Regions from separate parts of the Homo sapiens genome. Here region 1 is linked to region 2. The links come from fine-mapping of genetic effects on gene expression. Tissue or cell type: subcutaneous fat. Region 2 holds a variant in brackets; the other region holds the start of a gene. All regions are shown on one strand. Distances are from middle to middle.

The links. PIP is the estimated chance that this variant, and not a neighbour inherited with it, causes the effect.
Region 1: it holds the start of MAN1B1, and the variant in region 2 is fine-mapped to the expression of MAN1B1 in subcutaneous fat (GTEx, PIP 0.99).

The regions. Positions count from the first base shown.
Region 1 is chr9:137,085,787-137,088,462 of GRCh38, reverse strand. MAN1B1 (mannosidase alpha class 1B member 1) reads right to left here and starts at 1,478. Exons shown (of 13, transcript NM_016219.5): 1 at 1,245-1,478; 2 at 280-388. The coding sequence starts at 1,463. MAN1B1-DT (MAN1B1 divergent transcript) reads left to right here and starts at 1,646. Exons shown (of 1, transcript NR_027447.1): 1 at 1,646-2,676. RefSeq lists silencers at 1,115-1,344, 1,895-2,124 and an enhancer at 1,325-1,554.
Region 2 is chr9:137,047,999-137,050,674 of GRCh38, reverse strand. It overlaps ENTPD2 (ectonucleoside triphosphate diphosphohydrolase 2), which reads left to right. Exons shown (of 9, transcript NM_203468.3): 6 at 137-391; 7 at 686-805; 8 at 1,600-1,734; 9 at 1,815-2,568. The coding sequence ends at 2,018. Among named protein-coding and RNA genes, the nearest start is that of NPDC1, 3.2 kb to the right of the region's middle. RefSeq lists a silencer at 577-636 and enhancers at 974-1,502, 1,503-2,031. The variant G/C (reference allele first, on the strand shown) is at 1,263.

The sequences.
Region 1 (2,676 bases), 38 kb before region 2:
GCTGAGTGTTCAAGCCCACCAGCTGACTTACTCTATAAGGGAGGCTGGACATATCAGTACTTACACCAGAGACCTAGAAAGTAGTCAGACAGCATCAAATTAACATCTGTGTTCTAGCCAGGTGGTTACATACAGCTCTACCTTTCTCTTTATCTTGATTTCTTGCCAATTCGTTGCCATATATGCCTCCTGGAGCTGTTTAAGGTAGAATGCAAGATTGCTTCTGCCCAATCAACCCTCAACACAGATATCGTTTTCAAGTACACGTGTTTCTGATACCTTTCCAATGGTCAGCCAAGTTGATGTAGAAGAGGAGTCCACAGAAAAGCAGAAAGGCAAGGAGGAAGAGAATCATATTCCGCTGCAATCTCGACAGTTGCTTCCATTTCTAAGGGAGGTACAGAGAATGACATTTCTTACTGAATATATCACACGGAACGTCTCAACTGTCACAAACTGTGAGGACAATAAGGAATTCTTCTGGAAGATCCAGTGTTCAGCTCTATTTCTTTTTTTTTTTGGAAACAGGGTCTCATTCTGTTACACCTAGGCTGGAGTGTAGTGGGTGGAACGCGGGATGAGCCACCGTGCCCGGCCAGCTCTATTTATTTTGAATGGGGAGAAGTTCCCTCTCAGCAGGGAGTAGGAACATTGCTGGGACAATACTACAGATGTCGTTAATACAGTGGTGCAGATGAGACGAGGATAAGAAAAAAGCAGAAACATTTCTGTCACATTTCATCAACAGTGGAGAAAGACTCCTGCGACTCCCACAGATGTAGCCCAGGCACCGCCCAGGCGATGCACAGTCCGCATGTGGTTATCAATGCCCTTCGGCCTGAGACCACCACGAACAGACCAGGAGCCAATCAAGAGGGGCTCATTTCTCACTGTACCGAGGGGAGCATACACCACGGGGAACCTCCGGTTTCCGCTCCAAGAGGGGCAGGCGCCTGGGCCAGGACCTTGCAGAAAAGCGAACGAAGCCCAGAAAACCTGCTGGGGCTCTGAGCCCTCTTCCCACCACCGCCCCGCAGAATTTGGGCCGCTGAGACCGCTGCAGGCGAGCCGCCCACGGCTGCCCCAACCAGGAACGCACATTTGCCCCTTTTTGCGGGGAAGGGGTGGAGAGGGCGGCGCCTGGGGAGTCGAGTCCGCCCGCCCAGGTCCCGCTCGGAGCCGCAGTCTGGGAGGGCGGCGGGCACGGCAGCCCCGGGCCCCAGTCAGCCCGGCGCGACCCTCACCCTCCAGCACGAGCGCCGCCGCCAACTCTTGCTGTTGTCATAGTTCTCGCCAAAGCTCAGCGTCACCGAGATGAAGTCCCGATGAGGCGGCGGCGGCGGCGGTGGGTACATGACTACAGTGGTGGCGACGGCCCAAGGGGCCCCGCCCACTGGCGGCGTCAGGAAGTCCGACTGAGAGGAACCGAGAGCTCCGCTTCTCCTGCCCTCGCAGGCAGCCATCGCAGCGCCGTCAACAGCCCGCCCATCACACGGATACGCGACTGCGCGTGCGCTGCGTCTCTATGCGGCCAGTGCGCCCGCGCCTGTCTCCGCTGCGCTCCAGCGTACGGGGCTGCGTCCTACGGCGACTGCGTCAGACAACTGCTGCGACTCCGCCCTGCCCTCAGGTTCATTGCGCATGCGTCCGGCAGCGCCTGCCCAGGTGTGCTACGAGCGTAGCTGTAGCAACGGGGCGGGCCTTGGTTCGCCTGGGGCGTGGTCGCTGTCTGGGGCTCCCACGTGGTTCGCCTCATGGGCCTGGAGCTGGGCTTCTCTCGCCTCCTGTCGTCTGGCTGCACCGACTTTGCCCACGCCCTCACGGGAGACGCAGACACTAGGGACCCGGGGAGGCGCCCGGGCGGGGCCGCCATGTTGGCAGAGAGTCCCAGCGTCCCGCGCCTCGGTTCCGGAACCCGCGGCGCGGGGATGGAGCTGGGCTGCCCTTGGGCGCCGTCCTGGGCTGGTGCCCACCCTGGCCGCGTGGTCACCGGCAAGAAGCCCAGGGCCTCACCCAGGCGTGGGGGCCGGGGGAAGGACCGGACCCTCCCGAAGTCGCGGACCAGGCCGGGCGGCACCCGGGCTGGGGTGGCTGCTACCCCGAGCTAAGCTGGCTGCGCCGCATCTCACGGTCCCCGGGGCCCGAGCGCTGCGCCTGGACCGGCGCCGAGCGAGGCGGCCAATCGGCCGGCTGGACCCACAGTCCCCGCGCCATAGGCGGGTCGGGGCTTTCAGACCCGGCTCCCAGCCCTCGAACTCGGTAACCTTGGAGGTCAGCTTGAGATGACTGCGCTTCCTGCACGCGTTGTCCTCCCCAGAAACGCCCAAAATGGCAAAGCGGCGTCCGTGGCCGCCCGAGGCCCTCCCTGCCTGGGTTCTCCCCAGCCGAACCTCACGCCCGGCCCCTCCTTCATTCTCTCCTGGCCAGGCTGCTCCTGCCCTTGGGCGAATCCGCTGCGTCCCACGGTCCTGACTGTGGCATTTCTGCGTGTCTGGAGAGCTCCCCCGGCAGCGACGTCCTGCTTAGCACGTGGCTCGTCTAACTCTGTTCCCCTGGCCTCCTGCTCTTCTAGGGGTCATCTTTAGGTTTCTGCTGGTCTCTGCCCCCTGTGACACTTGCTGGTACCCAAATGAAGTCGTTTATGTCACACTCTAACAAGAGGCCCTGAAGAAGCCC
Region 2 (2,676 bases):
AAGCAGGCAGTGGGGAGCCATGGATTGCCCCTGAGCACAAAAGTGAAGTTGCCAGAGTGAGACCTGTGGGAGGTTTGTCAGGCTGGTCCTCTGGAGCGGTGGTGGTGCCACCCTGTCACGCTGGTGATTCCCCCAGACCCACGGCTTCCACCCCTGCTGGCCGAGGGGCTTTTCCACCCAAGTGCTGCTCGGGGATGTGTACCAGTCACCATGCACCATGGCCCAGCGGCCCCAGAACTTCAACAGCAGTGCCAGGGTCAGCCTGTCAGGGAGCAGTGACCCCCACCTCTGCCGAGATCTGGTTTCTGGGCTCTTCAGCTTCTCCTCCTGCCCCTTCTCCCGATGCTCTTTCAATGGGGTCTTCCAGCCCCCAGTGGCTGGGAACTTTGTGGTGAGTAGGGGCAGGCGGGTGGCTGGGAACTTTGTCGTGGGTAGGGACAGGCGGGTGGCTGGGAACTTTGTCGTGGGTAGGGACAGGCGGGTGGCTGGGAACTTTGTCGTGGGTAGGGACAGGCGGGTGGCTGGGAACTTTGTCGTGAGTAGGGATAGGCGGGTGGCTGGGAACTTTGTCGTGGGTAAGGGCAGGCGGGTGGCTGGGAACTTTGTCGTGAGTAGGGACAGGCGGGTGGCAGCAGGTGCTCTGAGCCGCTGGGGTTCGGTCACAGTGTGACTGCGCCCCCTACAGGCCTTCTCTGCCTTCTTCTACACTGTGGACTTTTTGCGGACTTCGATGGGGCTGCCCGTGGCCACCCTGCAGCAGCTGGAGGCAGCCGCAGTGAATGTCTGCAACCAGACCTGGGCTCAGGTGAGCCCCGCTCCCACTCCTTCAGGGCTGTGCGGAAGGGCTCAGCCTCCGCCTCCGCATGCCTCCCCAGCCCTGCATGGACAGGCCTCTCGGAGCACCCGCTGCAGTGGGGGCGATGGCAGGCATTAGGCTGACTCCAGAGGTGGCGTGGCTGTGGCCGGTAGGCTGTGAACAAGTCGGGCGGGTTGGAGAAGCTTCGCCAGGCCCGACCCTCATCCCAGATCTGGAGGGCAGGGGGAGGCCGGTGCCCAGGTTTCTGGCTTCTGCCACTGGTTCCCTCCATGGTACCACACAAGGGAAGATGGAAGTGGGTCTGGGCACCGGGAGTGTGCCCACCGGAGACTCCAAGAGAAACGTACGAGTCGTCCCAGGACCGGGGTGGTGAGCGAGGCCCCATTTTGTCCTCCCAGGGCCTAGTCTCAGACAGACTGGGGTGAGGGAGGTGGGGACAGGCGGC[G/C]AGCCAGCGGGCAGACTCAGGCCTGGAGCTCGTCCTGTTCCCCTGGCCACACACCAAGGTGTTGCTGCCTCCTGCTCCCTGGTGGCCATGCCTGCTGTCCCTCCTCACTGGCCTTCCAGGCATGGGCGCTGGCTGGGGAGGGATGGAAGCGTGCCCTGCCGGGGGTGCCCCTCGGACTCGGTCTTGCCATTCGTGTCCGGGCCTGTGTGGTGGTCTCTGGCCTCGCACGGCCCGTGTGTGTCTGGGGAGGGGTGAAGCACGCCGCCGGCCCCCTCTCCCCGTGGGGCCGAGACCTCCTGGTGGTCGCCTGCCTGACGGTGTCCCGCCCGCGTCCCAGCTGCAAGCTCGGGTGCCAGGGCAACGGGCCCGCCTGGCCGACTACTGCGCCGGGGCCATGTTCGTGCAGCAGCTGCTGAGTCGCGGCTACGGCTTCGACGAGCGCGCCTTCGGCGGCGTGATCTTCCAGAAGAAGGTGGGCTGGGGCGGGGCGGGGCGGGGCCGACCTTGCGGGGCGGGGCCTCTCGGGAGCTGAGGCCACGCCCTTCCCCGCAGGCCGCGGACACTGCAGTGGGCTGGGCGCTCGGCTACATGCTGAACCTGACCAACCTGATCCCCGCCGACCCGCCGGGGCTGCGCAAGGGCACAGACTTCAGCTCCTGGGTCGTCCTCCTGCTGCTCTTCGCCTCCGCGCTCCTGGCTGCGCTTGTCCTGCTGCTGCGTCAGGTGCACTCCGCCAAGCTGCCAAGCACCATTTAGGGGCCGACGGGGGCAGCTGCCCCATCCCTCCCCCAACCCCTGTATCCCCACCCCGTACTCCCACCCCTCCCACAACCCCTGTACCTCCCACCCCTGTATCCCCACCCCTCCACCCACCCCTCTCCCAACCTCTCTCCCCGCCCCTGTATCCTGCATTCCTCCACCCACCCTCTATCCCCCACCGCTCCACCCCACCACTGTCTTCTCCATCCTTCCACCCCACCCTCAGCGTCTCTGCCCCTAAGGCAGCCCAGGAAATAGGAACTGAGACTCTGGTACCCACAGGAGCCTGGGTGGGCAAAGAGCGCTCAATCCAGCTCCTTGAACCCCTCCAGCCCGCTTCAGCCTGGGCATCACTGCAGGCCCCGTGCTCCTCCTCCTCCTCCTCAGGGCTGGGTCTCCAGAGAGTGGGGCCTTGGTCCTGAGAATCAGCCCTTAGAGGCTCCTTCTGTGTAGTCTGGGTCTGTACTGGGGAGGGTCACAGCCCACGGGCTGGCAGCCAGCCCAGCACCTACTTGTAAAAATTTTGTAATAAAAAGTTTTTCCTAGAGACGTGAAAGGAGAGTGTCTGTGGGGTGGGGCATCCTTGCTGTGGCCTGTGCCCCCACCTTCCCGCTGTTCTAGCCGCACGGGCCTGCCCTTGGTCCTGAGGGTGGAC